2 separate regions of the Homo sapiens genome follow, and region 2 is linked to region 1. Evidence: fine-mapped expression QTL. A gene starts in region 1. The other region holds a variant in brackets. All regions are shown on one strand. Distances are between the middles of the regions. Region 1 holds the start of PRKAB1-AS1 (PRKAB1, TMEM233 and CCDC60 antisense RNA 1). Region 2 overlaps PRKAB1-AS1 (PRKAB1, TMEM233 and CCDC60 antisense RNA 1).

Region 1 (12,178 bases):
GCGGCAATCTCTTGGGAAGGTGATTTGTTTGGAATGTGCGGGCACCCAGAGGACCAGAGGTGGGAGGAAGAGTACCTCGGAAGGGTCGTGCGTCCACTGACCATCCACAAAGAACTTGTACTGATGCTCTCCTTCCGGCAGATCCAGGATGGCTACAAAGTTATTGTGGCTGCAAGGAAAAAGGAAGCAGAGGACTTCCGTGGGGTGGGCTGCCCCCCGAGCTTACTTGCCAAACCAGCTACAGAACAAAACGTTTCCACATAAAACCAAGAGTTCAGCTGCAGGAGAACAAACATTTTTAGCCCATTTAGACAATTCAGCATAATGACCTCAATCTGAAAAGGCTATAAGGAAGCAGCAGTGCGACACAGTTTCCTGAAAACTCACCTTACTCAAATACCAGGAAACCACATCCCTAATGTTAAAAGGTCAACAGTCAGGCATTTGTGCGTCTCAAGCTCGCAAGGCTCCTGGATGCCAAGGAGGATGACAACACAAGATAAACAGAAGCTGCCTCGTTTTACCCTTTGTCACTTTGCCTTGGGCAGGAGAAGGGATCAATTGAATAGGAAGCTCAAATGTTCTCTAAAGAAACTTGCCTAATGACTGAAAAACCAAACTCCGGAAGAGCCCCTTCACTGGGTTGTTTTGTCCCCTGGCTTGAACTGACCTGTGACTGCTGTGCTGAGTGGCTCCCTCCTTCTCCAATGGAAACGCTGGAAAGCAGGCAGCCCCTGACAATAGGCCTGACACTTTCTCCCTCATTTTATCAAGAATACTCACTAAAGGTGTTCTCTCACTGACAACTTAAGACAGAAGTCCATGCTGGGGTTCCTGATAAAATGTCTTACTATAATCCTTGCTAATGACACCTACATAGCATGTATTTTTCTTTTCTTTTTGGAGACAAAGTCTTGCTCTGTTGCCCAGGCTGGAGTGCAGTGGTGCAACCACTGCTCACTACAGCACTGACCTCTCAGGCTCAAACAATCCTCCCATCTCAGCCTCCCGAGTAGCTGGGGATACAGGTGTGCACCACCATGTCCAGCTAATTTTTAATTTTTTTGTAGAGATGGGGGTCTCACTATGTTGCCCAGGCTGGTCTTGAACTCCTAGCCTCAAGCAATCCTCCTGCCTCAGCCCCCAAAAGTGCTGAGATCATAGGCATGAGCCCCCATGCCCAGCCAACATGTACTTTTCAAACAAAGTATTACGCAGAGTCAAAGTTAGATGAAACCTCAGAGATGATCTGGTCCAATATTCCCTCTTTACAGAAACGAACGCTGAGGCTCAGGTTAACTAACGTTAGGTGACTGACAGCATGGCCAATGTGGGCTCAAATGTGGGTTTCTAAGATTCCAGCCCAGTGCTCCCTTACTGCATTAAGACAGATTTTTGTGTTTCTGTGGAAAAGTCCTGACCGAACAGATAGCTGAGGATCTGAAGTGAAAGATGTCTGTGACACAGAAATATTCTCTTTCTTCTGTACTCTAAACCTAGAGACCACCAAGGTTTAACATTTGAACCTTAAGACTTATTAAGCAAAATTATTTTTCCACTAGGCATCCATTTTATAGAAACATCCATTTTCTGTTCTCTCTCAGAGATGTTTTAGAAAGAAGAGAATTTATGTTAAGACAAATATGTGAACACTCCCCAGGCAATTACCTTCTGGTGAGGGGAAGTTTACTCCAGTTGTTGAAGGACCCAGATAAGTAAACTTCCTTTCCGCCCCCCGTCCATCGAAACACCGTTGGCCGAGCCTGGGCGGGAGCTTTATCATTCACTTCCAGATCATGCTGCCAGGCCAGGAATTCCTCCTTCTCTGGTGCCTAGAAGCAGAGCAGTTTACTCAGAAAGCCATAAGCGAGCTCCCTACAACAGACAATATTGACAATTCATTCTAAAGACGCAGCTGTTACTATCTTGGTTCATGGTTAGGATCGGAAACTTACTAGTGGTGCCTCAGTTTCCTTGCCTGCAAAATAGAAATATATTTTTTAAGGTTGTGAAGACTGAGACAGTCCATGTAAGTGCTCTATATAGTGTCTGACACAGTGAGTGCTAATTATTAGCTATTGTTGTCATTAAAGAAGTTGACATCAAAATTCTAGAAGAAGCTATGAAACACACTTGGAAGGGGCTACTACGAATCCAAGACTAGCTTAATGTCATGTTCCTCCCTTAATCAAGCAAGATTTGAAGTACAGTCATGTGCATGATGTCTTAGTCAACGACGGACTGTGTATATGGTAGTCCCATAAGATTATACCATATTTTTATTGTTATCTTTTCTATGTTTAGATACATTTAAGTACACAAATCCTTAAATATACTTGTGGAATAAGTGTCTACAGTATTCAGTAGAATAACATGCTGTACAGGTTTATAGTCCATAAGCAACAGGTTACACCATATAGACTAGGTGATACGGTTTGGCTCTGCGTCCCCACCCAAATCTCACCTTGAATTGTAATCCCCATAATCCCCACGTGTCAAGGGCAGGACCAGGTGGAGGTATCGATCATGGGGGCGGTTTCCCCATGCTGTTCTCTGACAGTGAGTGAGTCTCATGAGATCTGATGGTTTTATAAGCATCTGGCATTTCCCCTGCTTGCTCTCATTCTCTTCTGCCGTCCTGTGAAGAGGTGCCTTTTACCATGATTGTAAGTTTCCTAAGGCCTCCCCAGCCATGCGGAACTGAGTCAATTAAACCTCTTTTCTTTATAAATTACCCAGTCTCGGGTATTTCTACATAGTAGCATGAGAACAGACTAGGTTTGTGTAAGTACACTCTATGATGTTCACACAATGATAAAATCACCTAATGATGTATTTCTCAGAATATGTCCCTGTCATTAAGTGATGTATGACTGTACATGAAAATTTAAGAGGAACAATTCTAGAGCTGTCAACTTGAAAATAGGCAAATCCAGATTTTGAGGAAGGGAAAAACTACTCACAAAGTTCTGTCTAGGGACTGGGGAATAAAGCAAGACAAAGACTGAACCCTCATTAGGATAAATGATAACCTCCAGTGTGGTAAGCTCCGTATAACTGAGGTATTCCAGAATAAGAAATAAACTCATCCAAATCTATCTGGATGACATATGTAGTCATGCACCTTTTAGATTTTTTCCCAGTCAGAAGCCAAAGACTTAAAAAGAGCAGAAGGTTCAGGCTGGAAAAGACTCTTCAGGGAGTTAAGCAGGCTTCTAGCACCTTCATCTCAAATACCGACCTCAGCTTATCCAAATGATGCCTGTATTCTTTGAATTCTAACAAGATCTACATATTAAATAACAGACTGGAATCACTTCACACTAAGGATAACTAATTATGACCAAAATAGCACCCTAGTGTAGTTAAAAGAATTCACGACTTTTTTGGTATCTGGGGATTTCAGTAACTTCTAATGAAGTGAGAATGGACGCTGCTTGAAATCATTCCCCATAGATGATGTGTGTGCTCAACATTTCCTGGAGGAGTTTTGGAATAGTAACAGAACAAATACTTCTGAAGAAAGTAGTTTTGATTCCTTTGGTGTCTTAAATAGCCTTCTTGGGACCAGGGACCAAAATTACCTCCTGGGGAAAGGACGTCAAGTCATTAGAGAAACATGATTCTAAAGTTCACTTTGCACACAGCTCTTCAAGAATGCAACAAATTCAGAGAGCAAGTTCAAACCACAGGTTGTAGGGCCACATAAAAGCAGCCTCTTTGTAGTCAGGCTCAAAACTAAGATCCAAAAGAAGGTGTGAGATGTGATCACCTCGCTCAACATGAGGACAAACACAGATGGAATGAGCTGCCAAGCAATTAAATGGATGATGATTAACATGAAATTGGATACTAACAGGGTATGTTGGGCAGAGGGCAGCTTTATCTTTCCTAAACCTACTTTGTTCCTTGAAACAATTAGTTCCTTTTGGACATAACACATAAATACCAGCTGCCAGAATCACTAAGTGTCCTTGGACTGAGCCCTGCGGCTGGAAATATCCACCATATGAAGGTGGTTAACAGGAGTGTGGTTGAAGCAGGAGTTAAGTCACCTGAGTTTTTGAATTTAAACAGGCTGCAGCAGGAAGAAAAATGTTTGCACTGGCCTGCTTAAGCACGATTAAGTCATATTTAAACAACACTAGAGAGAAGTTCAGTAGCTGCTGGCTGCCTCCTTCAGACAGACCCTCACCGCCCACTGACCTCTAGAAGCTGAAAGACTTTTCTATGTACGCTTTAAAAAAAAGCAGGGTGAGGCCGGGAGTGGTGGCTCATGCCTGTAATCGCAGCACTTTGGGCGGCCCAGGCGGGCGGATCACTTGAGGTCAGGAGTTCAAGACCAACCTGGGCAACATGGCGAAACCCCACCTCTACCAAAAATACACAAAATTAGCCAGGCATGGTGGCACACGCCTGTAGTCCCAGCTACTCGGGAGGCTGAGGCAGGATGGTTTGAGTCCGGGAGACGAAGGTTGCAGTGCCCCGAGATTGTGCTACTGCCCTCCAGCCTGGGCAACAGAGTGAGACTCCATCTCAAAGAAGGAAAAAAAAAAAATAAGTAGGGTGGGTTCAGTGGCTCACGCCTGTAATCCCAGCACTTTGGGAGGCCGAGGCAGGCGGATCTCCTGAGGTCAGGAGATGGAGACCATCCTGGCTAACACGGTGAAACCCCGTCTCTACTAAAAATATAAAAAATTAGCCGGGCGTGGTGGCGGGTGCCTGTCGTCCCAGCTACTCGGGAGGCTGAGGCAGGAGAATGGCGTGAACCTAGGAGGCGGAGCTTGCAGTGAGCCGAGATCGCGCCACTGCACTCCAGCCTGGGCGACAGAGCGAGACTCGGTCTCAAAAAAAAAAAAAAGTAGGCTGAACCGGCCAGCACCGTAGCTCACGCCTGCGATCCCAGCACTTTGGGAGGCCAAGGCATAAAGATTGCTTGAACCCGGGAGTTCGAGACCAGCCTGGAGAACATTGTGAGACCACCGTCTTTTTTATTTTTATTTATATTTTTTTTTTGAGACGAAGTCTAGCTCTGTCGCCCAGGCTGGAGTGCAGTGGCGCGACCTCGGCTCACTGCAAGCTGCGCCTCCCGGGTTCACGCCATTCTCCTGCCTCAGCCTCCCGAGTAGCTGGGACCACAGGCGCCCGCCACCACGCCCGGCTAATTAGTGAGACCACCGTCTTTTAAAAAATAAGTAGGGTGAATCAAAAGTGTTGGGCAGAACTAAACACCTCTGGCAACTGCCGTCAGCTGTTCCGCTCTACTTTCAGCTTGTATATGTACCTGGTTTGCCTCCAAAATGGATAAATTCCCAAACTAACTTTTACAAAAGCTCCAGTTTGTGTAAAGGTGAGGGAATTTGTCTCAAAGCAGTGCAATTAATTACACCTAAGAGAAAAGCAGAAGCTGGGGCTCAATTACTGTTAGCTCGACTCTGAATTAATTAAGAATTTGAAACTCTGTCCCAGAGCTGCTTTCTCCTTAATGATGTTAAACCAAGTGAGCACCTCCTCCCTCAGGGTGACTTTCTCATATTGGTAATTAGACACAGGTTCTTGGACCGCTAAGAGAACTCTTACAGGACCATCTGGCTTTTAAGTGCACCGGGTAATGTACCACCTCCCTCTCCGTTCTGGTGTTTTTCGAAAGGATGTGACGGGAATCTAGTGGAGGGTTCCTCTCCTCAACATTAGTCAAGGGGAATCGGGTTCCTCCACACCGCTCGCACCTTGATTTCCTCGGAGTGGAAGAGGTCGGCGTCTTCGGGGCTGTCCATCAGGATCTTGGGCCTGTCCCCGTCCTTGGTGCCCCCCGAGCTGTCCCTCCGGGGCGTCTTATGGCCACCATGCCGCTCCAGCGCGGCGCGCTCACTGCTGGTATTGCCCATGATGGGGGTCTGCGGGGACACAGGGAAGGCGGACGGCGCCTCACTGCAGGAAAGGGACCCTGAGCAAGGGACTCCCGGAACCGCGGGTCCCAAGGAGCCTGCGGAAGGAGTCGGAGCACCAGGACACCACGCCCCTCGGGCCGGGAGCCGGTTCCGGCTGAGTCGGCAGGGTTGCCGAGCTCTCGCAATCGCGCTTTACCTGCCCAGGCAAGCCGCGGCAAGAACGCAAGGGGCGCGAAGATAAACCGACACTTTCCCAACCGCTTCACCACCCCTCAGCGACTTCCGCTTCCGGCGACTCCGTAAGTCGGCCCGGCCTAGGGCGTGGAGGTGGCGGCGGCCAGCTAAACGCGCGAGGCTATCTCGATTCCATTTCCGCTTCCGGTCTTGAGCGGTGCGGTAACAGGTGCCCCGGGCCGTCTCTGCAGGCCTCGGAGCGCGCAGTCGCAGTCAGCAGCCGGCCGCCCAGGGCCAGGCCCAGGACGAGGCGCTGCCGAGGGCCGGCAGGGGGCACCCCAGCGCGCGGGCAATCTGAGCCGTTCATGCGCTGGGCTGAATAATGCCATTTAGCTATCTTTGCTCACTTATAGTTGATTCTACACTCTGCAGCCAGAGGGATCTTTCTAAAATGCAAATCTGATTCAGAAACTCCACTTCTTAAAGCCCTTTTAATGCACGTGTTCTCACGCTTTACAGTGCATTAGGTTAACCTGGAGCGCTTGTTAAATGCATCCCCCACTGCAGACCTGCAGAATCATGATTTCTACAGATTAGGGTCGGGGGTGCAGGCAGTCTTGCAGGTATTTGAAAAAATGGCAGACCATAAGATCTCTGGAAATTTCTTATGTCTAGTAGGTTGGGGGTTGTAAAATGCTGGAGTTATTCGTGTATTTTTATTGAGTGTGCAATCTTTTGATAGGTAATTTTGCAAGATATCTTGTAATCACTTCGGAAACATCCTTCTGCATAAGATGCATTAGCGTTTGTCATTTACTCTGGTCAGTGCTTCAACAAGAAGTGCATACAAATACGGTAGTAAAATATTCTCATCTTCTCATTGTCAGTCATTGTCATATTTTGTGGGTTTTTTGGTGTGTGAATATCTCAAAATACTTTGCATTTGCCGGGTCAGGTCATGCATTTCACCCACTGAACATTTATTTAGTACCTAAAAAAGTACCAGACATTGTGCTAAGGAAATGAGGAACACAAGATGACTAAGATAAGGTTTCCTGGGGGGAATTCAGCAGTATGCATCAAAATTTAAAAATGCACCTTCATTTTGACACACAATTTTACTCCTAGGAAACTTGTGCAGAAATACACACATGAAAATTATTTACAAGCATTATCTACAAAATATTTACATGCAAAAATATATTCTAAGATGCACTTGTCACCCCCCATGCCCCCATATATTTTAATTTCTGAAACTGGATGCTTTTTACAATAATGGAATCTTACACTTGGTGAAATAAGGAAATGAAAAACTACAAAATCCTAAAAGTTGTTCAGTAGGAGAATGGCAAAATGAATGGAATACATTCATTTTGTAGAATACCAAGCAACTTTTAAAAAGGGAGAAACCATTTTTAGGTCACTATGGGGAAGTGTCTATGATATTGCAAGGTCCGGAAGCAAGTGAGAGAACAAGTTCAAGGGCAGGAGCTCTGAATTCAGCCTGGCCATGTTCAGATTCTGGCTTTACCATTTAGTAACTGTCACCTTAGTCTCTTCTTTTGTGAAATGGGAACAAAAATAACACCTACTTCATAGGCTTGTTTTGTGAATTAATTGGGAACGTGCATAAAAATGCTGAGCATAGCACTTGACTCTTAGTAAACACTCAATAACTGTTAACACTTTTATTAGCACTATTAGGCTAGCAAATGGAAAGTTCTGGAAGGGTATACAACACATTGTTAATAGTGGTCTTCTGTGGGGAGAGGAGGGAGATTGCAAATAGGAGCAGACAGAAAAGGGACTTTCACTTTTCATTTATATAGTTCTGTATTTGAAAAGTTTTCTATTGTGAGGATGTACTACTTTTTAATTTAAAAAAATAAGATATGGTTCCAGCCCCAAAGGAATTAATACAGTACAGGCTGGCACCGACCCACAGAAAAGCAATAATATAGCTAGGTAAGGGATCCTGTGGGAGCCCAGAAGGGACTTAAGCCAGGCCAGGAAAAGGGATGGGAGCCAGGAAAAGGGATGGGAGCCAGGAGGGTCTTCCTGAAGCTGATGACTGAGAATTTGAATGTATTCAGTATAATCAGAAATGTTGAATGTGCTTGCTGAATTAAATAAGCTAAGATACTGTGGATGACCCAGGATATCTTCTTTGAGCTGCTTTTCTAATAGTGGCCCTGACTTGGTTACATGAGACAGTGGGGTGTTGAGTTTTGAAATCTCTCCCAAACAGCCGGAGAGATAAGAAAGAACACATGAGCTGTGGATTCTTTATCTGAGCTATGCAGATGCTTTGATGCATGAAGAAAGTTTTAAGACATCTGCACTAGCTTGAATAAGATAACAGTGAAAGCATGGGTGGCCCTTGATGTCAAATACAATCAACAATATCCTGAGGATGCCACCAACTGCTGATTGGAAACTCTTACCACATTGTATCAAGATTTCATGACAAAGAAACTAACATTGGTATCTATCAGCTATTGACCCCATATTGAAAATCATGGGTAGGGTAGACTCGCCAATTACAAGTGTCTACTTGGGTCCCAGCTGTGTCTCTCTTGGGTCATTTTGTGTTACTTATCTGTGTAACAATGGTTTGTGACTTTCCTAAGCATCAGAGCGTCTCATCTTTCTCTGATTCTCTGCTGATATGGATGTCAGACCATTCCATCTTGGGGGCTGGAGGTGTGCCAGGAAGTATAACTGTTAGCACATTGCTGTGTAAAAGGCATCATCTACTCACTGCTGTCTGTCTGGCACCAGGGCAAAGACAAATGATAAATACCCTAGATTCTCCCCCAAACAAACCAGGGCAATTTTAACACAGCCACAGCTAGGAGTACCCCTCCCCCACCCCCGCAACCCTGGCTTCAAATTCACTCCAGCTCCAAGCACAAAAAGAAGTAGGTTTTCAAGTCCTTAAAAGTCACCCAGAGTGAGATAAAATCTCATTTATCCTTAAATTTATGATTAAAAGGGTTAAGGATAATGTTTTGGGGCCTCCTCCATAGGATGGATTAGAATCAGTATAGCACTTCTGAACTGACCAACCCATTTGTTTTATATAAGGAAGAGTCTAAGTCCCAGAGATCGAACAGTTTTGCCTGAGGTCACTCAGATGATCATAGGTCATACTGAGACTGAATTCTGGATCACCTGGCCACTCCCCACTACATCATGGTCATGGCACCTCATCAAAAAGACCTTTGGTTCCCCAGCTGGCCTGTCTACAAACATTTGTACTGTTCTGAAGAACCCTCCCCATCTAAGAACAGCCAGGGCTCTGATCACAAATAACTCAATGGCAATATTGAGTGCCAATTATGAGCCAGGCACTGTTGTAACTCTTGGTTACAACAGTGAACAAAACCAAGTTCTTGCCCTCCAGAGGAAAGAGTCCACACACATATGCACATGTGGTGAGAACAGGCAGTGTTCTCACTAAACATCGGTAGCTGGAGGAAGAAATTTCACATTTGGACTATGCTGTAGACTAAATTGTATCCCCCCAAAATTCATACATTTGCACTCCCACTCCCAATTTTATAATGTTTGGAGGTGGGGCCTTCAAGGGGTAATTAGGGTTAGATGAGCTCATGAGAGTGGGGCCCCCATGATGAGATCAGGGTACTTATGGGAAGAAGAGACGCTGGAGAGCTTGCTCGCATGCTGTCTATTCACGCCCATGCTCAATGGAAAGGCCATGTGATGACAAAGCAAGAAGGCGGCCATCTGCAACTCAGGGAAAGAGCCCTCACCACACATCAACCATCCTGGCACCCTGATTGTATTAGGCCATTCTTGTATTGCTATAAAGAAATATTTGAGGTTGAGTAAGTTATAAAGAAAAGAGGTTTACTTGGCTTATGGTTCTGTAGGCTGTACAGCAAGCATGGCTCTGGGTATCTGCTTGCTTCTGGTGAGGCCTCAGGAAGCCAAGGGGGAGCCGATGTATTGATGTATCACATGGCAAGAGTGGGAGTAAGAAAAAAAGTGGGAGGAGGTGCCGCACGCTTTTAAACAACCAGATCTTGTGAGGGCAGCACCAAGACGATGGTGCTACACTATTCATGAGAAGTCCACCTCCATGATGCAGTCACCTCCCACCATGTTGGAGGCCTCACCTCCAACATGGGATTACATTTCAGTGTAAGATTTAGGGGGAAAAGTATCCAAATTATATCACTGATATTAGACTTCCAGCTTTCGGACCTGGGAGAAGTAAATCTCTGTTGTTTAAGCCACCCAGTTGATGATTTGTTATAGCAGTCTGAGCTGACTAAGACAGACTCAAATGTGTGTGGGCTGCTAGGATAGAATTACAAGCTTACTTTTAGGGCTTAACCAGATTTCCACCAGGCCTTCTGAATTTTGCCTAGCCAATGTAAGTAACACTGCCAATGTTTGAGAAACTTGTCCATCTTTTCTTGCTAGACATTCTTGTGTTCTCTTTGCACTGAGATGTGAATATTGTGACAGAGAGTCATCAACATAGAATTAAAAGAAGTTCATTCTACAGCATTTGGTCTACAACCTTAATTGGCAAATAGCCTCATTTTGTGACTTTTAGGTTGTCTGAGAAAATTCTGTTTCTTGACCTGGGTTGGTAATTATTAACATGTTTGCCTTGTAGTAACTTACTAAGCCATACATTTCTTTTGTGTAGTTTCCTGTATCTTTATTTTATTTTCAATAAAGTTTTTTTTAAATAAATAGCTTCACTCACAGGGTAAGCTGAAACCTAGAAGGGAGAAGTGCCCAGTTCAAGGTAACACAATGTTCTTAATAAAGTTCACCTCAAGTCTATCCTCTTTTTTTTTTTTTTTGAGATGGAGTTTCACTCTTTTCACTCAGGCTGGAGTGCAGTGGTGCAATGTCGGCTCACTGCAACCTCCGTCTCCCGGGTTCAAGCGATTCTTCTGCCTCAGCCTCCCAAGTAGCTGGGACCACAGGCGCACCCCACCACGCCTGGCTACTTTTTGTATTTTTAGTAGAGACGGGGTTTCACCATGTTGGCCAGGCTGGTCTCAAACTCCTGACCTCAGGTGATCCACCCTCCTCGGCCTCCCAAAGTGCTGGGATTACAGGTGTGAGCCACTGCACCTGGCATCTCTATCCTCTTTTAAGAGCTTTGAAGGAATGGAGGAGAAAAGGATGTACACTTTCTACCCCTTTTCTAGAGGACAAGTGACAAACTAAAGCAGTATCCAGGCAAAGATCCAACGGAGGTGAAAACAATGAGAGGAAGTCTGTCTCTGTCTCATCTCTTTAAAATGTAAGCTCCCAGGGATTTGAATATCAAAGTTTCATAATCACTTTAACATATGCTGTTGGGACCATCATACCCCATCTGCATGTGCCCTTCTGCGCATGCCCCAAACTTCCTAACTGTGAGCAGGTGCAACTCTGAGGGCCTTCTGGAGAAAGCTTTGTCGACACAAGTGGGAACCCAAGGGGACCAGAGAAGACACCCTGAGAGAAGCCCTCAGCCAACCACAGAGGAGCCAGTTCCCTTGCCCCTTGGATGTGCTAACTCTAATGAAGCAGCGTCATTTTTCTGGGGTAACACCCGAGGTTCGATGTCTCATGCTAAGGAAATTGAAGACATGGCCATGCAAGGAGTGGGTTTAAGAGTGGAAAGTTAAATAGATGAAAGAAGGAAGAGAGCTTCCTCATGCAGAAGAAGGGGTCCTGAGTGGGTTTCCCTGGTTTGGGGCAAGGTGTGGTTGGTTTTAGGGATGAGCGTGAGGAGATGGTATATGATTTACATGGGGTGTAGTGGATTGGTTGGACCAGATGTGCCATTTTCATAGCCCGTGAAGAGGCTGGTCATCCCACTCTAATCTTTTATTATGCAAATGGAATTTTAAAAAACCTGGCTGGTGCCATGTTATCTGCACACGTGGCAACAAAGAAAAGGGAAGAGGGAACCTCCATGTTGAATATACCTGGTTTCCAGCTATCTGTTTTCTATTGGCACAGCTGCTGGTATTTACCTATGCAAGCCTCTAGCTTGCTTATCTATGCTTGCAGCTTGATTTTTCAGGCTGCTTTTTGTTAAAAAAAGAAATGATTTGGAGACTGCGTTTTTATTA
Region 2 (12,178 bases), 100 kb after region 1:
GGGCATTTATTAATCTTTTCAAATTGCTTTTGCCAGGAACATTCTGATACAGGCTAGTTCATCAGAACCAGAAGTGAAGTCCCCTGTTTATGACGTTGTAAGTAGAAGTTTTTATATTGCCAAATATATCTGAGCATAGAACTCAGTTTTCCTTTATGATAACTCGTTTAGAAATCCTTTATTAAACTCAAGGTCATTCATATTTTCTTCAAAAATTTAGACTTTTATTTTCACATTTAAGTCTTTTTTTTTTTTTTTTTTTTTGAGACGGAGTCTCATCATCCAGGCTGGAGTGCAGTAGTGTGATCTCAGCTCACTACATCCTCCGCCTCATGAGTTCAAGTGATTCTCCTGCCTCAGTCTCCTGAGTAGCTGGGATTACAGGTGCACACCACCAAGCCCAGCTAATTGTTGTATTTTTAGTAGAGATGGGGTTTGGCCATGTTGGCCAGGCTGGTCTTGAACTCCTGACCTCAAGTGATCCACCTGCCTCGGTCTCTCAAAATGCTGGGATTACAGGTGTGAGCCACCATGCCCGGTCTCACATTTAAGTCTTTAATCCATTTGGAGCTGTATTTTTTAATAGTGTGAAGTAGAAATCAAATTAAAAAAAATTTTTTTACAGATAGCTTATTGTCCTAGTGGTGTTTATAGAGTAGGGGTATACTTTTCCTAGTGACCTGTGATATTTCTTTTGTCGTATGTCTAGTACTGTGTCTGCACTCTCTACTCTGTTTAATTAAACTATTTTTAATATTTTTGCACCAATAAAGTACTATCTTAATTGCTATAGTTTTCTAAGGTAAGTCTTGATTTCTTTTTCTTTTCCAAAAAATGTCGTGGCTGTCTTTGGCTTTTTTCTCTTTTGGAATTAGCTTTTCAAGTTTCACAAAAAACTTTATTAGAATTTCATTTGAAATTGCCTGAATATTTATATAATCAATTTGGGGAGAAATGTCTTTCTTGATATAAATATGTCTTTAATGTCTTTCAAGGGAGTTGTATAGTTGTATAATTTTCCACTTGAGGCTCTGCTTATTTTTAAAATATCTGTATTTCTGGCTACCAGTTTATTTTGCCATCATCATTGAGTATTTTATTTTATTATTTATTATTTTTTAAGAAGGAGTCTCGCTCTGTCACCCAGGCTGGAGTGCAGTGGCATGATCTCGGCTCACTGCAACCTCTGCCTCCTGGGTTCAAGCCCAGCTAATTTTTGTATTTTTAGTAGAGATGCAGTTTCACCGTGTTGGCCAGGCTGGTCTCGAACTCCTGACCTCAAGTGATCCGCCCGTCTTGGCCTCCCAAAGTACTGGGATTACAGGCGTGAGACACTGTGCCTGGCCTGTTGAGTATTTTAAATGTTATATTTCTGTTTGTTGTTGATGCAGATAAATACAGTTAAATTTTATATCACTATTATATTCAATTACCTTGCTAAATTGCCTAATTTATTCTAATAATTTATAGAGTCTTTGCAGTTTCTATGTGAATAATCACATTCATTGCAAATAATTCATTTTGTTGCCATATTTTAATCATTCTACCTTGGTTTAATTCATCTCGTATTATTGCATTGGCTGGGGTATCCAGTACAATTTTGAATGGAAGAAGTGAGAATGAGCACCCTTCTTTTGTTCCCTCCTCTAAAGGGAATACTTCTAAATTTTACCTGCAATTATGATTTCTGTTACAGGTTTTAGGTAGACACGTTTATCAAGTTAACTATTTTTTTTCTCCTATTCCTAGTTTGCTAAGTGTGCTCTGTTTTTTAAAACAAATTACAAATGAATGTTGAATTCTATCCAATGCCTTTTCTTCATCCATTGACAAGATCATATAGTTTTTTTCCTTTGATCTGAAAATGTGACAATTTACATTAAAGGATTTTTAAAGGTTAAGCTAATCTTACGTTCATGGTATAAGCCAAATTGGCCATGAAGGATTTTATTATATGATATAGTTTACGATACGATATATGAATGATATATTTCATGAACATATAGCTAGGTTTTGCTTTCCGATATTTAGGATTTTTGCACATATATTTATTTGCAAGATTATCCTGTAACTTTCCTTTTTCATTTTCTGTCTGGTTTTGGTATCGGAATTATATTAGATTAACGGGTACATTTCCTCTCAGGAATTCTTCGGAAGCACTTGTATAAAATTGGAATTATCTGTTTCTTGAAAATTTGCTGTAAGTTTTTACAATTCTATCTAGATCTTTTTCTTTCCTTTGAGGAAATATTTTAAATTACTGACAAATTTTCTTCGTTTTAGAACTATTCTTGTTTTCTGTTTCTTTCTGAGCCAGTTTTGTAAAATATATAATTTTCCATATATAATTTTCCATGTAGTCTAAACTGTCAAATTTATTGTCATGAAGTTTTTCATAGTATTTCATTATCTTTTAAAATCTCTCTTTTACGTATTTTTAGACATATTCTCCATTTGTGCTTTTTCTCTCTCTTTACTAGATCAATCTCACCAGAGACCTGCATCTGTTATTATTTTTTCTTGAAGAACCAACATTTCATTTTTTAAAAAATCATTTATTTATTTATATATAATATATATTATATTATATATATTATATATTATAATTTATATATATTATATATTATATATAATTTATATATATTATATATAATACATATATTATAATATATATTATATATTTTATATATATATATAATATATATATTTTTGAGATGGAGTTTTTGCTCTTGTCGCCCAGGCTGGAGTACAATGGCATGATCTTGGCTCACCGCAACCTCCACCTCCAAGGGTTCAAGCGATTCTCCTGACTCAGGCTCCCGAGTAGCTAGGATTACAGGTGTGTGCCACCATGCCCGGCCAATGTTTTGTATTTTTAGTAGAGATGGGGTTTTACCAGGTGGGCCAGGTTGGTCTTGAACTCCTGATCTCAGGTGATCCACCTGCCTTGGCCTCCCAAAGTGCTGGGATTACAGGCATGAGCTGCTGCAACCGGCCTATTAATTTATATTCTTTTTACTATTACTATTGCCTTCCTTCTTTCTTTGAGCTTACTTTGTTATATTTATAACTTCCTAACCTGGATACTTAGTTCACTAATTTTTAGCCTTTATTTTTAATATAAAAATTTAAGAATATACATTTTTTGAAGTACTTCACTAGATGCATCCCATAAACTTTAATTTATAGCATTTTCATTATTTTCAATTGTAAGTATTTGTACATTTTCATTATGATTTTTCTTGGATTCATGTTATATAGAAGCATGTTCTTCTTTTTAAAATTGAGAAGCACATTCTCTAAGGTCAACATTTTTTGTTTTCTTTTTGTTATCGACTCCATTACATTCTGATCAGAGATCATAATCTATATGACATTGATTCTTTGAAAGTTGTTGAAACACTTTACTGCCTGAAATGTGGTCACTTTTTGTAACTGTTTCATATGTAATTGAGAAGAATGTGTGTTCTCTAATTGTTGGGTACTGGGTTCTGTATATATCTATTAAATCAGATTTTTAAATTGTGTTGTTCAAAGACTCAGTTACTGCAAGATATGTGTTGAAATCTTCCATTTTGAACACCTGGATCCTGCTATGGCTGAAACATCTATCTTTGGATTTCTTTTTTTTCATTTGAGCCAATGAATTTTTGTTTTTTTGCTTGAGTGGGCTTGGATTGGGTTTTGTTTCACAAACCTAAATAGCTGTCGGTGGACAGTTCGGTTGCTTCCACCTTTTGGCTGTTGTGAATAATGCTATGAAAATAGGTATACAAGTCTCTTTTTGAGGCCGTGCTTTCAACTCTCTTTTTAATGTTTTGAAGAACTGCCATACTGTTTTCTGTAACAGCTACACTATTTTACATTCTCACCAATGGTACACAAGGGTTCCAGTTTCTCCCTATCATCACTAATATTTGTTATTTTCAATTTCTTTTGACTATAGCCATCCTCATGGGTGTGAGGTGATATCTCATGTGGTCAACAGGTTTTTATCATGCGTCTGGCACTGTGCTAAGTGGATTACAGCACAGCAAACACACTTACAGAACTTGAAGCCGTGTGGGTATAAAATATACACACATACCGAATTACAGTTTTGCAAATTGCTCTAAGGGAGAACTTCTCCAAGGGAGAAGTTACAGGGAATGGGGTCGAGGGCGTGACTTACTCCTAGAGGAGGGGCATCTCTTAAAGAGATACGTGGTAGGCTGGGCTTGGTTGCTCATGCCTGTAATCTCAGCACTTTGGGAGGCTGAGGCGGGTGGATCATCTGAGGCTGGGAGTTCGAGACCAGCGTGGCCAACATGGAGAAACGCCATCTCTACTAAAAATACAAAATCAGCCATGCATGGTGGTGCGTGCCTATAATCCCAGCTACTCAGGAAGGTTGAGGCAGGAGAATCGCCTGAACCTGGGAGGCGGAGGTTGCAGTGAGCTGAGATCGTGACACTGCACTCCAGCCTGGGCAATAAGAGCGAAACTCGGTCTCAAAAAAAAAAAAAAAAAAAAGACATGGTAGCTCGCTCCCATGCATCCTCCTGGGATGGAGAACTTTTCATGCTGTTTCCTTAATAGGCTTCTGGGGCGGTGACCTTTTAGCTGCTGAGTTTTCAGAGGCCCACAGGTCCTTTCTTAGCGCACAGTAGCCTTCGGGACTGGGGCTTGCCAAACACCTTCAGAAGTCCCCAAAGAGCTCTTACTCTGGCAAACAGTTTGCCATCAATAAACAGGGCAGTGCTTCCTGCCCAGATGCCTGTTAAACTTGCCTCTCTGCCACAGTGAGTCACTCTTAGCAAAGGTTGCCTTGTTGGGCAGGATGGTCTGGTGACCCAAGGCCACTTGGTTTTCTGTGATCCCTTTTGCCAATTTGTGACCAGAAGTTAGATGGTCACTGGGGCAAGGGGAACTGGTGGTAAATGGAGTCACCAGAGGTGGCAGGATGGTTGCTATGTTTGGGTGCATTTTCCGTTAATTCTGTCTAAATAGGTTTTTAAAAACATATATGTATTTATTTATTTTTATTTTTTTGAGACAGAGTCTCACTCTGTCTCCAAGGCTGGAGGGCAGTGGTGCAATCTCAGCTCACTGGAACCTCCACCTTCTGGGTTCAAGCTATTCTCCTACCTCAGCCTCCTGAGTAGCTGGGATTACAGGTACGCACCACCACGCCTGGCTAATTTTTTTTTTTTTGGAGACAGAGTCTCGCTCTGTCGCCCAAGCTTGAGTGCAGTGGCACAATCTTGGCTCACTGCAAGCTCCGCCTCCCGGGTTCACGCCATTCTCCTGCCTCAGCCTCCCAAGTAGCTGGGACTACAGGCGCCCACCACCACGCCCGGCTAATTTTTTGTATTTTTTAGTAGAGACGGGGTTTCACCGTGTTAGCCAGGATGGTCTCGATCTCCTGACCTCGTGATCCACCCGCCTCGGCCTCCCAAAGTGCTGGGATTACAGGTGTGAGCCACCGCGCCCGGCCTAATTTTTGTATTTTTAGTAGAGACTGGGTTTCACCATGTTGGCCAGGCTGGTCTCCAACTCTGGACCTCAGGTGATCTGCCTGCCTCAGCCTCCCAAAGTGCTGGGGTTACAGGTGTGAGCCACCGTGCCCAGCCACTAAATAGTTTTTAAAATATATATAGAGAGAGTGGCAAGATTGGACCCAATGATCCTTTCTTGCTTGGCATTTGGAGAGCTTGAGAGGAGGTGCCCAGGGCAGTCATTTTGACATTTTCTTTGAAGAGACAGGATGACACCACCCAGTTATGCTAAATTCTTGGAAAATTAGTGCAATACCCCTCTCTTCTTTCTCACTCAAGAAAGTTGAGAAGAAAGCCAATTTATAGGCTGGGTGCAGTGGCTCATGCTTGTAATCTCAGTGCTTTGGAAGGCTGAGGTGGGAGGATTGCTCGAGGCCAGGAGTTCAAGACCAGCCTGGGCAACATAGTCAGACCTCATCTCTACAAAAAATTTAAAGAAATCAGCTGGGTATGGTGGCATCTGCCAGTAGCCCCAGCTACTTAGGAGGCTGAGGTGGGAGGATCGCTTGAGCCCAGGAGTTCAGGGTTATAATGAGCTCTAATTGTGCCATTGCACTCCAGCCTGAGTGACAGAGCTCTAAAAAAAATTCCAAATTATAAGTGTAATATCATTATAGCAAAGCATACTTGGCATAGCACCTGGCACTTAGACCTGTGCTCAAGACCATAAGCTATTTTTATTTATTGTTATTATTATTATTATTATTTTTGAGATAGAGTCTTGCTCTGTTGCCCAGGCTGGAGTGCAGTGGTGTGATCTCGGCTCACTGCAATCTCTGCCTCCCTGGTTCAAGTGATTCTCTGCCTCAGCCTCCCAAGTAGCTGGGATTACAGGCACCCGTCACCACGCCCAGCTAATTTTTGTATTTTTAGTAGAGACGGGGTTTCGCCATGTTGGCCAGGCTGGTCTCGAACTCCTGACCTTAGGTGATCCACCCACCTCAGCCTCATAAAGTGCTAGGATTACAGGTGTGAATCACTGCGCCCGGCTTATTTTTAATTAATTATTATTATGTATGTCTTAGGCCTAACCTTCAACCAGGAGTAGCCAAACCACACCCCATGGTCCACATCCATCCTGCCACCTGTTTTTGTATGACCTGAGAACTAAGAATAATTTTTGCATTTTTAAGTAGCTAAAAAAGAGAATAATAGTCTCTGACATGTGAAAATTGTATGAAATTCAAATTGCAGTATCCTTAAATAAAGCTTAATGGGAACACAGCATTGCCTGTTTGTTTATGCATTGTCTGTGACTGCTTTCACACCACCATGGCCGAGTTCAGCAGAGACCATACGACTCACAAAGTCTCAAATATTTATTTTCTGTTCCTTTACAGAAAAAGTTTGCCAAAACTCTTACTAGACTGTCACATCCATTGGAATCCACAAGTACGTACTTGTTGAATATTTATCTGTGAGGTTCAAGACCATGTCCATCTTGCTCACCATTGTCTTTCTCTCTCTTTTTTTTTTTTTTTGAGACGGAGTTTTGCTCTTTC[G/A]CCCAGGCTGGAGTGCAGTGGGTGATCTCGGCTCACTGCAACCTCTGCCTTCCGGTTTCAAGCAATTCTCCTGTCTCAGCCTCCCCAGTAGCTGGGATTACAGGCGTCCACCAACACGCCCGGCTAATTTTTGTATTTTTAATAGAGATGGGGTTTCACCATGTTGGCCAGGCTGGTCTTGAACTCCTGACCTTGTGATCCACTCTCCTTGGCCTCCCAAAGTGCTGGGATTACAGGCATTGAGCCACTGCGCCCAGCCTCACCATTGTCTTTCTATTTCTGAATACAGAATTGATCTCAGTCGTTTCTGTGGAGTTCATTGTTACCCAGATGTCTTGGGATTTTCCAGCTTTCATGGGTCATCTTCCATTACAGTTGTTATATAATTGAGCTCTGTTTTGCGTTGATCCAAAAGAATTGCAGTTTTATACCAGGTAGTGCTCCCTGGGCATTTCTGGGGGTCCTTGAGGAATGCTTTCATGTTCCCACATCTGTTTTAAGAGTATTCCTCTGGGAGCCTCCTCCTAAGTTCTCTGCTAGACATCTTTCATTGCCCTAATTAGCCCCATTTCTTTTACTGGAGATCTGGAGGTGAGAGCAGAAAAACATCATAGGAAAGCCTGGACCCTAAATCCCGGACTTCACATATTTTAGAGCTCATGCATCGTGCTCATGAGCACCCCAACTGGTGAACCTTTTTCTCCTGCCATGGTGTCGTGGGCTCATCCTGTTTCCCATGTCGTTGGAGTCTTTGACTATCTCTCCTCCAAATCCCAACTTCCACTTTGTTCCAGAGAGAGAGAAGGAGAAGCCTTTCCTCTCCATCACACAAAGTATTCTTTAGAGAGATGCATTTCTTCCCTCCATGACCTTTTCAGAAGAGGAGATTGCAGCCAGGTGTGGCGGATCACACCTGTAATCCCAGCATTTTGGGAGGCTGAGGTAGGCCAATTGCTTCAGGTCAGGAGTTCCAGACCAGGCTGGCCAACGTGGTGAAACCCCATCTACTAAAAATACAAAAATTTAGCCAGGCATGATGTTGAGCACCTATAATCCTAGCTACTCAGGAGGCTGAGACACGAGAATCACTTGAGCCAGGAGGTGGAGGTTGCAGTGAGCTGACATTGCGCCACTGTACTTCAGCCTGGGCGACAGAGCGAGACTCCATCTCAAAAAAAAAAAAAAAAAAAAAGAGGAGATTGTTTACCCTTTGCTTAACTGAAATGCCTCCAGGAGTCCAAGAGTGTTCTCCCAAAACAAAACAGAAATTTTCCTTCCTCTTCTCTTCAGAACCACTGTGATGAACTCAATCTCTGTCTGATGAGTAGCTGAAAAAAATGCTGGTGGCTTTAAAATACCTGTTTGTCCCCCACTTTGAGCCTACAAGATAGTAGAAAATATCAAAATTCAGTTTCACAGCACAAATGAATAAATGAATGAACCTCCTCTATCTATATATATATGTATATGGTAAATACAATGTTCTGTATTTAAATTGTAAATACATTTTATATAGCACATATATGTAGTATATAAATACATGTACTTTTCTCTATATAGCATATCATACAGTAAAATATTATAGGGTCAGTCACGGTGGCTCATGCCTGCAATCCCAGTGCTTTGGGAGGCCAAGGCAGGAGGATCGCTTGAGGCCTGAAGTTCAAGACCAGCCTGGGCAACATAGGTAGACCCTGTCTCTACAAAGCATTTTAAAAAGTTAGCCAGGTGTGGTGGTGTACACCTGTGGTCCTAGTTGCTTGGGAGACTGAGGCAAGAGGATTGCTTGAGCCCAGGAGTTGGAGGCTGCAGTGAGCTATGATTGTGCCACTGTACTCCAGCCTGAATGACAGAGCGAGACTCTTTCTCAAAAAATAAATAAATAAAATAATATATTAAATTACCTAAAAACATTGATACTTTATTATTAGTGGCTCATGTCTTTCTTCATAGGGATTCAGACCCAGCCTTGGTTAATCTCTGGTTAAGAAACGCTGGGCCTAACAGCCAGGTGCTGATGCCTGAAATTATGAGATGAATTTCTGATTGGGCTTCTTGGCTTCACTCGTACTTTTCCATGCCCACAGCCTGGTATCCTCCTCCAATGTTAGCCAGCTCTGGTGTTTAAAAATGAACTCCAAAGTCCCCAGGACTGGGTGCAAGGGAGGTGAGAAGAGAGGATGGGACAAGCATGGGCATTGATCGATGACCTCCTCTTCCTGGAAGAGTCTTCCAAGTATCTGCCCTACCGGTAGCAGGTTATTCTAGGCTCCTAAGTCTGTGGGGGTGCAATGGTGTTAATAACATCCTGTGCTGAGTGGGCACAGGTGGAGGAAGTGGATACCCAGGAAGCTGGAGGAAGGGAAGAGAGGCAGTGAGTGGGTTCACAGGCTGAGAAAAGCACTTTGATGTGCTAGTGGGGTCTGGTGTTAGAATCTGGCTTTGAGGTTCTTTTAGGGGTAACAGCTGTGATCAAAGAACCAGTGCCATTGTGATGGTGGTGAGAATAATGCCTGTTTATGTCTCTTCTTTTTGCTACTTTTTTTATGACGAAAGTCATAGATTCCTTTTTTACATTTAAAAAATATATGTAAGAGAATAAAAATGGATCCCATCACTAAAAGATTTCATCAAAAAATATCCATGGAGCTTCACCTGTGGCTAGATTCCAGGTTCTGGGAATAGAGAGAGAACAAAACAGACACCCTCCCTCCTTCCTGGAATTTATGAACAGATGAACAAATGAATAAGATATTTTCAGATAGTGATAAAGGCAAGGAAGAAAATAAAAGAGAACATACAAGTATCTTGGTGGGAGGTTAGTTTAGCAAGAGGTGATCATTGTTCACATTTGCGTGTGTGGTGTTCAAGGTCTTTTTTACCTTTAGTGTCTGTCCTTCTCTTTGCATTCTGATCTAATTATGCATCATCTATCTAAAAATGGGATCATGATGTACACGCTGTGTTGTAACCTTACTTTTTTCATTTACTTGGAAACATCTGTTTCATTTATTCATCGGCATCATTATTTTTACAGATGCAGAGCAATTCATCACATAGGCTATACCATGCTTACATAACCAGCCCTTTATGATTGCACATAGGTTGCTTCCATTGTGTTGAAAAGATGATGTGTCTGGAAACTGTCCCTTTCCTTACATTGCCACTACCACCTCCCTGGCTCAAGCTTGGGAGGTGGCAGGTCCCTTGCTTGGACCATTGAAGTAGCCTCTTAACTAGTCCTCTGGCTTCATTTTATACTCCTCTGCCAAGATTTTATATTTCTGGTCATGCCACTCTTTGGCTTCCAAACTATCATTGGCTCCCTACTGCCTACACAATGAAACCTAAACATCTTGGATTTATGATGGTTGGTTGTGCACTCGTAAAACTGGATGGCTTGAATAAGCATGTGAAAAGATGCTAAATACCCTTAGTCATTACAAAAAATGCAAATCGAAACCACAACTAGATACTACTTCACCTTTATTAGAATGGCTGTTAAAAGCAACAATAACAACAATGGAATATAATAAGTGTTGGCAAGGATGCAGAGAAATTGAAACCCTTGTACATTGCTGGTGGGAATGTAAAATGCTGCAGCCGCTACAGAAAACAATACGATGGTTCCTCAAAAAGCTAAAGAGAATTACTATACAGCCCAGCAATTTCACTTCTAGGTAGATAACCAAAAGAATTGAAAACAAGGACTTGAACAGATACTTGCTCATCAGTGTTCACTGCAGCATTAGTCACAATAGCTAAAATGTGGAAACAAACCAAATGTCCATCCACCAATGAAACGATAAAGGGAATGTGGAATATTCATATGATGGGATATTATTTAGGTGTACAAAGGAATGAAGATACAGTACATCCCTCAGCATGGATGAAACTTGAAGGCATTATGCTAAATGATATAAGCCAAACACAAAGTGATCAATGTTGTATAATTCCACTTACAGTAAATACATAGATTAGGTAAATTTAAGGAGACAGAAAGTAGATTAGAGATTACCATGTTCCTGGGAATGGGGAGGTATTGCTTAATGGGTACAGAGTTTCTGCAAGGGTGATGGAAGAGTTTTGGAAGATGGAAGAGTTTCAAGATAGTGATGATAGTTGTACAGCAATATGAATGTAATTAATGCCATTGAATTGTCAACTTAAAAATGATTAAAATGGCAAATTTTATGTATATTTTAGTACAATTAAAAAAAAAACCTGGATGATATGTCCATCCCTGCCTCCATGCCTTTGCTCACATGGCTTTGCTCTTGCTGGGGAACACTTTTCTTACATTTTTGTCTATTGAAATCTCATTCTGTTTTCAAGGCCGATCTCAAATAGGACCTCCTTCCTTGATGACTTTTCTAACTTATTGTCTCCCTATGTGTTCTCAAACCCATGTGATCTTCCATTTGTTTGAGCTCTCAGACTATGTTCTATGTCCCTTTTGGGCTGTTTCTTTGCCTTCATCACTTACTATGCTGTAAGTTCTTTGAGTAGAGGGACCTTGCCTTATTCATCTTTGCATTATTCATCCAACAAATATTTACTGAGACCATACTATGTGGTAGCCTGGAATATAATGCCAGTACACTGTAAAAAGTCAATTAATGTTCAGTTGAGTTGGCATGCCATATGTGGTCTGGACCTCGAATTTTTGGAGGACTTTCAGAGTGTGTAACCTTAAGGAGGAGTCAGTTTTCCTCCCTACTTAATAGTCTTGTTGGCACTCATTCTTGGAAGTAGTGGACTATCATAGGTAGTTTTCTCTTTCTTCTGGGAACATATATCATTCTTCTTTTTGGGAAATCATTTTCTTTCTTCTTCCCTGACTCCAACCCATGTGATTTGAGTGAACTGCCATGTTTTCACATGATCTTGCTCTCTTGGTTGCTGTTGATTGGTTCAAGGTGAACACCTGACCCAAGATGGACCAATCAGAGCTTTGCCCTAGGATTTTTGAAACCAGAACAGAGAGGAGAGCCTGGGGAGTTGAGAAGCCACATTGCCACGTGTGTTAGAAGCTGGCATGCAGCAGGATGTGGCTGATGCACAGAGGGAAGAAGAGAGGAGCAGAGAGAAAAAAAACCCTGGTTCCAGTTGCATCAAAGATCCATCTGTATCTTTATC

What was found. PIP is the estimated chance that this variant, and not a neighbour inherited with it, causes the effect.
Region 2: its variant is fine-mapped to the expression of PRKAB1-AS1 in skeletal muscle (GTEx, PIP above 0.99). The same link has a PIP of 0.9 or more in atrial appendage, breast, lung, subcutaneous fat, thyroid and visceral fat.

What each region holds. Positions count from the first base shown.
Region 1 is chr12:119,661,955-119,674,132 of GRCh38, reverse strand. It overlaps PRKAB1-AS1 (PRKAB1, TMEM233 and CCDC60 antisense RNA 1), which reads left to right and starts at 6,006. Exons shown (of 3, transcript NR_188494.1): 1 at 6,006-6,190. It overlaps PRKAB1 (protein kinase AMP-activated non-catalytic subunit beta 1), which reads right to left and starts at 6,000. Exons shown (of 7, transcript NM_006253.5): 1 at 5,730-6,000; 2 at 1,669-1,832; 3 at 76-169. The coding sequence starts at 5,888. RefSeq lists enhancers at 4,670-5,305, 5,744-6,153, 8,288-8,432, a silencer at 6,254-6,523 and a cis regulatory region at 8,351-8,368.
Region 2 is chr12:119,558,186-119,570,363 of GRCh38, reverse strand. All of the region lies in intron 1 of PRKAB1-AS1 (PRKAB1, TMEM233 and CCDC60 antisense RNA 1), which reads left to right. Among named protein-coding and RNA genes, the nearest start is that of TMEM233, 29 kb to the left of the region's middle. The variant G/A (reference allele first, on the strand shown) is at 7,040.